Linked DNA regions of Homo sapiens: region 1 is linked to region 2. The links come from fine-mapping of genetic effects on gene expression. A gene starts in region 2. The other region holds a variant in brackets. All regions are shown on one strand. Distances are from middle to middle.

What was found. PIP is the estimated chance that this variant, and not a neighbour inherited with it, causes the effect. A credible set is the group of variants that fine-mapping cannot tell apart.
Region 1: its variant is the best candidate, but not a certain one, in a credible set for the expression of B4GALNT4 in whole blood (TOPMed, PIP 0.74).

What each region holds. Positions count from the first base shown.
Region 1 is chr11:481,452-485,648 of GRCh38, forward strand. All of the region lies in intron 4 of PTDSS2 (phosphatidylserine synthase 2), which reads left to right. Among named protein-coding and RNA genes, the nearest start is that of RNH1, 24 kb to the right of the region's middle. RefSeq lists an enhancer at 2,886-3,407. The variant GT/G (reference allele first, on the strand shown) is at 2,130.
Region 2 is chr11:367,228-371,424 of GRCh38, forward strand. B4GALNT4 (beta-1,4-N-acetyl-galactosaminyltransferase 4) reads left to right here and starts at 2,272. Exons shown (of 20, transcript NM_178537.5): 1 at 2,272-2,727. The coding sequence starts at 2,577. RefSeq lists an enhancer at 805-1,343.

The sequences.
Region 1 (4,197 bases), 110 kb after region 2:
TCCTGACAATATTAACTCCGTCAGTCCTTGAAGATGGGATGGCTTTCCATTTATTTAGGTCTTTAATTTCTTCCAACAATGTGTTACAGTTTTCAGAGTTTAAGTTTTGTACTTCCTTTATTACATTTACTCCAATTATTTTGTTCATTGTGTGCTCTTGTAAGTGGAACTGTTTTAATTTTACTTTTGCATTGCTCGTTACTCATGTATGGAAATGTAGCTCATTTTTGTGTACTGATCTTGCGTCCTGCAACCGTGCTGAACTGATTAGCTCTAATAGTTGTGGTGTTTTGGGGTAGACTCTTAAGAATATTCTATATTCAAGATTATGTCATCTACAAATAGAGATAGTTTTACCTGTTCCTTTCCAATCTAGATGTCTTTTATTTCTTTTCTTTTTTTTTTTTTTAGACTGAGTTTTGCTCTTGTTGCCCAGGCTGGAGTGCAGTGGTGTGATCTTGGCTCACCGCAACCTCCGCCTCCCAGGTTCAAGCAATTCCCCTGCCTCAGCCTCCCGAGTAGCTGGGATTACAGGCATGCACCACCATGCCCAGCTAATTTTTTTTTTTTAATTTTTAGTAGAGACAGGGTTTCTCCATGTTGAGGCTGGTCTTGAACTCCTGACCTCAGGTGATCCGCCCACCTTGGCCTCCCAAAGTGCTGGGATTATGGGCATGAGCCACCGTGCCCGGCCGATGTCTTTTACTTCTTTGCGTAGCTGCCCTGCCCAGAACCTCCAGCTCAATGTTTCCTAGAATAGGCAAGGATGGGCTTTTTTTTTTTTTTTTTGAGACGGAGTCTTGCTCTGTCGCCCAGGCTGGAGTGCAGTGGCACGATCTTGGCTTACTGCAAGCTCCGCCTCCCAGGTTCTAGCGATTCTCGTGCCTCACCCTCCGTAGTAGCTGGGATTACAGGAACATGCTACCACACCCGACTAATTTTGTATTTTTAGTAGAGTCGGGGTTTCACCGTGTTGGCCAGGCTGGTCTCAGAACTCCTGGTCTCAAGTGAGCCACCGCACCTGACTAATTTTTTAACTTTCTGTGGAGATGAGGTTTCGCCATGTTGGCCAGGCTGGTCTCAAACTCCTGAGCTCAAGCGGTCTGACCCCTTTGGCCTCCCAAAGTGCTGGGAGTATAAGCATGAGCCACTGTGCCTGGCCAGATGGACATTCTTATCTGATTCCTGATCTTAGGGGAAAAGCATCCAGTCTTTATCCCACTGAGTGTGTTAGCTGTGAGTTTTTCATAGATCTCCTTACCGAGTGGAGAAAGTTCTGTGAGTTTTTTGTAGATCTCCCTACCGAGTGCAGAAAGTTCTGTGAGTTTTTCGTAGATCTCCCTACCGAGTGGAGAAGGTTCTGTGAGTTTTTCGTAGATCTCCCTACCGAGTGGAGAAGTTTCTGTGAGTTTTTCGTAGATCTCCCTACCGAGTGCAGAAAGTTCTGTGAGTTTTTCGTAGATCTCCCTACCGAGTGGAGAAGGTTCTGTGAGTTTTTCGTAGATCTCCCTACCGAGTGCAGAAAGTTCTGTGAGTTTTTCGTAGATCTCCCTACCGAGTGGAGAAGGTTCTGTGAGTTTTTCGTAGATCTCCCTACCGAGTGGAGAAGGTTCTGTGAGTTTTTCGTAGATCTCCCTACCGAGTGGAGAAGGTTCTGTGAGTTTTTCGTAGATCTCCCTACCGAGTGGAGAAGGTTCTGTGAGTTTTTCGTAGATCTCCCTACCGAGTGGAGAAGGTTCTGTGAGTTTTTCGTAGATCTCCCTACCGAGTGGAGAAGGTTCTGTGAGTTTTTCGTAGATCTCCCTACCGAGTGGAGAAGGTTCTGTGAGTTTTTCGTAGATCTCCCTACCGAGTGGAGAAGGTTCTGTGAGTTTTTCGTAGATCTCCCTACCGAGTGCAGAAAGTTCTGTGAGTTTTTCGTAGATCTCCCTACCGAGTGGAGAAGGTTCTGTGAGTTTTTCGTAGATCTCCCTACTGAGGGGAGAAGGTTCTGTGAGTTTTTCGTAGATCTCCCTTACTGAGTGGAGAAAGTTCTAGTATATTCCTAGTTGGTTGAGTGTTTTTATCATGAAAAGTTGTTAGATTTTTGTTAAATGATTTTTCGCATCAAGTGAGATGATCATATGGGT[GT/G]TTTTCCCCCTTTGTTAATATGATGAATTACATTGATTGATTTTCTTATCCTGAACCAACCTTACATTCCTGGGATAAATCCTGCTGGGTCCCAGGGTGTGCCTTTTTACATACTGCTGGACTTGCTTTCCTAGCATTTTATCTAAGATTTTTGCATCCATATTTGTAAGAGGTACTGTCCTTTAATTTTCCTGGAATGTCTTGTTCTGGCTTTGGCACCAGGGTTTGTGAGGATGTCTGACGTTTTCTCAGTATTTGTCTGGGGTGAAGGCGCGCACTGGCACCATCACCATGACGTATCCCTGGCGCTGTGGACCTTGACTGCCTGGCGAGATGTGTCTGTCAGGCTTTCCACTGTCAATCCATAGTGCATTCTCCACAAGGAGGTCACTGGTGCAGCCTGCATGGAGGGAGGGGAGTTTCGTTGCCCCCCTTGGTGTGTGGCGTCTGCACGTTGCCAGGAATTCTTGTGCATGGGAGAGATCCTGCTTCTCTACCATTAGTTATTCCATCATGTATTTATTTATATCAGTGTGGACGTACAGATACTTGTCTTACACTTGCATATTTATTTCAGCGCTGCTCTATTTATCGTGGTGCCCAAATTCTTTTGCCAAAAGGAATTTCCACGTGGTTCCTGTATTGCTTTCACACACCCTCACGGAGTTCTTGGCTTTTCGTTTTGTTTTTCTGAGGACATCCTGACTTCCTAGCACTGCGGGATGCTCCAGGCTCCTCCTGTCCACTCCCCACCCTGGTCCTGGAATCAGCCCCTTCTCCAAGAGCCTTGGGTCCTTACTGAATATTAGGAACTGAGGCCTGGGTGTTGGGTGGGCTGCGTGGTCCTGGGTGCCATAGCTCACAGAGGACGGGCATGTGTGCACTCACTGTGTGTGCAGGCGTCTGTAAACACAGCCAGTGCAGGGGTGCGTGTGTGCTGTGTGCGCAGGAGAGTGTAAACAGTGCACGGGCGCGTGTGTGCTCACTGCGCAGGCATCTGTAAATAGTGCATGGGCGTGTGTGCTCACTGCGCAGGCATCTGTAAACAGTGCATGGGCATGTGTGCTCACTGTGTGCACAGGCGTCTGTAAACTGCACGGGCGTGTGTGCTGTGTGTGTGCAGGCGAGCGTAAACAGTGCACGGATGCGTGTGCTCACCGTGTGCGCAGGCGAGTGTAAGTGCACGGGTGTGTGTGCTGTGCGCAGGCGAGTGTAAACTGCACGGGCGCGTGTGCTCACCGTGTGCGCAGGCGAGTGTAAACAGTGCACGGGTGCGTGTGCTCACTGTGCGCAGGCGTCTGTAAACAGTGCACGGGCGTGTGTGTGCTCACTGCGCAGGCGAGTGTAAACTGCACGGGCGCGTGTGTGCTCACTGTGTGCGCAGGCGAGCGTAAACTGCACGGGCACGTGTGCTCACTGCGCAGGCGAGCGTAAACAGTGCACGGGCGCGTGTGTGCTCACTGTGTGCGCAGGCGAGTGTAAACTGCACGGGCACGTGTGCTTACTGTGCACAGGCGAGTGTAAACAGTGCACGGGCGCGTGTGCTCACTGTGTGCGCAGGCGAGTGTAAGTGCACGGGCGTGTGTGCTCACTGCGCAGGCGAGTGTAAACTGCACAGGCGCGTGTGTGCTCACTGTGCGCAGGCGAGTGTAAACTGCACGGGCGCGTGTGTGCTCACTGCGCAGGCGAGTTTAAACAGTGCACGGGCGCGTGTGTGCTCACTGTGTGCGCAGGCGAGTGTAAGTGCACGAGCGCGTGTGTGCTCACTGCGCAGGCGTCTGTAAACAGTGCATGGGCATGTGTGCTGTGTGTGTGCAGGCGACCGTAAACAGTGCACGGACGCGTGTGTGCTCACCGTGTGCGCAGGCGAGTGTAAACAGTGCACGGGTGTGTGTGCTCACTGTGCAGGCGAGTGTAAACTGCACAGGCGCGTGTGCTCACCGTGTGCGCAGGCGAGTGTAAACAGTGCACGGGCGCGTGTGCTCACCGTGTGCGCAGGCGTGTAAACTGCACGGGCGCGTGTGCTCACTGCGCAGGCGAGTGTAAACAGTGCACGGGCGCGTGTGT
Region 2 (4,197 bases):
CCAGAAGGGGCCGAGACGGATGTGGTAGCATATGGAGCATCTGCGTCCGGCAGATCCCAGCTCGCCCCTCAATTGTACCTACTATGCTTTGGATCCACAGGGGACACCCTCTGACTGTGGACCCATGAAGTGTCCCAAACACGTCTCTCCCGACATTGCCAACACTTGCCTTCTAAGAACCTGTTTACGGGTCAGGCCAGCCGTTGCCTCCCCAGAGAGCGACCCTGGAGCGGGAGCCGGCCTCCCTCCATCACCCAGCTCATCTCCTTCACGTCACTCACCACCAGCAAAGCGACTATGCGTTCACTGGTCTGTCCCTGCCTAGTAACATGTAAACTCCATGAAAGGAGGGCCCTTTTCTGTCTTGCTCACTGCTGTGTCCCCTAAGTCCCTGGCTCGTCAGGACACTAGAATACTAGGTAGCGTCCACTGGCTGGATGAATGTGCCTAGGATGGGGTGCCATGCAGTGGAAAGAGGGAAAGCATTAGACGCACAGCCAGACAGATGCACATAGAAAATATGGGACTTGGAGAAACAGAATGAGACACATAAAAGAGCACCACTGGCCGGGCACAGTGGCTCACGCCTGGAATCCCAGCACTTTGGGAGGCCAAGGCGGGAGGATCACTTGAGCCCAGGAGTTCAACGCCAGCCCGGGACACATGGTGAGACCCTGAATCTGTTAAAAAAAAAAATACAAAAAATTAGTCCGGCATGGTGATGCATGCCTGTAGTCCCAGCTCCTCAAGAACCTGAAGTGGGAGGATCGCTTGAGCCCAGGAGGTCAAGGCTGCTGTGAGCTGAGATTGCACCACTGCACTCTAGCCTCAGAGACACAGTGAGACCCTGTCTCAAAAAGGGGTGGGGCACTATATTTTAATGAATATGCAGATAACAGAAATATGAAAAGTGGACTGCAGGAGGCAGGAGATGAGGAGCTGATGGGGTGGGGGAAGGTTTGAGAGACCGGGTGTTGTTTAAGGGCCGGTATGAACAGCAGGATGTAACCAGCTTGCTTCTGTGCTCAGAAGTTAGGGGAGGAGGATGGAGGGGAAGGAGGGAAGGAGTTGAGGTCTTAAGAAGGCAACTTCTGGGCAATCTTCCATTGTGAGGTGGGGTCCACGTCCCCACAACCCACGAACTTGGGTGGCCGTGCGGCATGTGGCAAACCTGAGGGGTGACTCCAAGATGCTTCACTCTGTGTGCTGGACCGGGAGGCTGCCCCTGGCAGCTGAGCCTGCAGGCGCTCTGGCCAACCACCCGGGGTGAGCCCAGCCATTCCTGCCGAGGGTGCACTGGCTTGGGGCAGAAGTCTCTGGATGGCTCCAGCCTGTCCCGCGGAGCCGGCCCCACCACTCACGTCTTCCCACCGGAGGCCAGCACCTCGAGGAGCAGAGAGGAGCTGTCCCCGAGTGCCCTGAGTTCCTGACCCACAGGACACAGGAACACAGGAACGCTGCTGTTGGACAGCACTGAAGCTGGGCGGTTTGCTACACACCCAGAGACAGCTGAGCAGACAGAGGGAGAAGAGTAGGGTCACGCTGGCAGCTGGACAAGGGAAGTACTGGGGGGACAGAGGGACTGGCAGGGGTTGGTGCAGACCAGGTGAGAAAGGGCACGAAGTGGGACAAGGTCCCGGTGAGAGGCACGACACTGTCACCTGCCTCAGGCCGCGCTCGGTGGGGCGGGGGCCACCAGCTGAGGCCCCTCCTGCCGCCCAGACAGCTCGGCCCCCTGCGGCCCCAGCCCTGCAGGCTGAGATCCCGCAACGACTCCCACCCCTGGGCTGAAGCCGGTGCTTGGGCCCCCCCGCCCCCCGGCCTCTCTCGCCCGCCCCCATTCCCCGCCCCCCAGGACCCCGGGTCCCTCCCCTCCCTCCTCCGTGTTGTCCGCCTGCAGTCCTTCGGGTCACTGTTCTCGGGAGGCCGCCCCGCCCCACAGTCAGGCTGTGCCCATCCCCCGCCGCCCCCCACGGTCCCCGAGCCCCAGCGCTTCCCAGCCCCGCGTCTGTGTGCCGCGCCCCCGCGCTCCGTGGCCCAGGTGGACGCGCGCCCCGCGCCCCGCATCCCTGTCCGTCCCGCACCCCTCACCCCCCGCCCCGCACCCTCCGCACCCCCCGCCCCGCCCCGCCTCCCCTCGCCCCGCCTCCTCCGCCCCGCACCCCGCGCCCCGCCCCGCCTTCCCGCGCCCCGCACCCCTCCCCGCGCGCCGCCATTGGCTCCCCGCGGCCTGGCTCGGTCCGATTGGTTCCGCGCGCGCGGCCGGGGCCCGATCCGCGGTGGCAGCCGTGGATGCTGTTCGGTCCCGCCGCCGCCCCAGGAGCGCGGAGCCGGGAGCGGCCGGGCGGGGGGCACCGCGAGGAGCCGCCCCCGCCGCCCACCCCGGGCCCGCGGCCGAGGGCGGCCTGGGGGGGTCGCGGCCGCACCCGGTGGCCGCGCACGGCGGACAAAGGACCATGCGGGGCCGCGGGCGCTGAGCGCGGCGGGGCGGGCCGGGGATGCGGCGCGGGGCGGGCGGGGGCCGGGGGCTGCAGCGGCGCCGCTGAGCGCGGCCTGGGGCGGGCGCGGCGGCCGCGATGCCGCGGCTCCCGGTGAAGAAGATCCGTAAGCAGATGAAGCTGCTGCTGCTGCTGCTGCTGCTGAGCTGCGCCGCGTGGCTCACCTACGTGCACCTGGGCCTGGTGCGCCAGGGACGCGCGCTGCGCCAGCGCCTGGGCTACGGGCGAGGTACGGCGCGGGGGGCGCGGGGGGCGCGGGGGGCGGGGGCGGCGCGGGGGGCGCGGGGGGCGCGGGCGGCGCGGGGGGCGCGGGCGGCGCGGGCGGCGGGGGCCCCGGGGCGCGGGCCGGGCCTCCCACCGCACAGAGGTCTCGGCTGGGCCCGACCCTCCCGGAGACCCCGCCCGCTGTTCTCCGCTCTGCGATTTGGGGGGAGGGGGCGCGGTTCGGCTCGGCCCGGACGCTCGATGACGTCGGCAGTGACGCGCGCGACCCTCCCAGAGAGGGTCCCTGACTCTGGGATCTGGCTTGGATCCGGTAGTGAGGGGCTGACGGTGGGCTCCTGGGGAAGTCTCTGCCCCTAGACCCTGCTGAGGCTTCCAAGAGGCCTTCTCAGGCCTCGCCTCCACCCCCTGCCCGCTTAGCAGGGCCTCAGTTTCCCTGTGTGCTGGGGACCCGGGCCGGGGCTTGCTGAAGTGGCCGGTGCAGCTGGGACGCTTCCCGGCGGGGGCGCCTTCGGTGAACTGTGCCAGTGTTGTGGGGGTCCATGCGTAGGGATGGGGCCCAGCTTGGGGAGCCTGGCGTAAACTCTCCCAACCCCAACCCACAAACAAAGCAGATGGGGTCACGGTGAGCCAGCCGGGGTAGGGCCTCCTGGAGATGGTGATCTTTGACATACACCTTTGGGGGAAAGAGCATTCCAGACAGGAAGGCGCAGATGAAAGCCTGGCGGTGGGGTTGGGGGAGAAGGTGGGGCAGAATGCCCCCTCTGGAGGAGGGAGGTTAGTGCCATGCCCAGACCAGGAGAGACCCCAGCTGGCTGCCTCTGAGCCTTTTCCAGGGAGCCAGGTGTCCTGAGGGGGCAGAACAATGATACTGGCTGGGGACTCCTGGGCCACTCCACCTGCCAAAGCCCCTGTGTTCTCTTCCTGTACCGGGACGCCTGGACCCACACAGGCCAAGGGTCTGGGGCTTGTCCCAACCCACATACCTCACAGCTTCCACACCCTCAAGAGACCCCCGATACTGCTGAATCCCTAAAAAGCCCCACCCCAGCTATCAGCAGACAGGGCAGGATCCACAGCTGGCCCAGTGACACAGAACAAAACCAGCCCCCTCTGCAGGCTCCTCTGTGGTTTTCTGAGCAGCGCAGGGGTCTAAGCCCAACCAGGAGGGGGCGGAGGCATAGGGACCCCTCTTCCAAGGACCCCTTGAGGCTAAGCCAGCTCCGCCCCAGGGCACCTGTACACTTGCTACCTCTGAGGCTAGGGCCAGGACCAGAGGAGCCCAACAGCTGCCCAGGGAGAGGGCGAGTGAGCAGACTGTTCTGTCGGGGGACCTGGGGCCCAAGTCAGGGGAGCCCTGGGGGACCCTTCCCAGATCTGCCTGTGGACATCTCTACTGCCTCCCCACAAGCCTGGGCAGGCCAGCTCTGCACCCCAGCCCTCTCCACTTCCTGGACCTCCCTAAGCTGAGGACCTA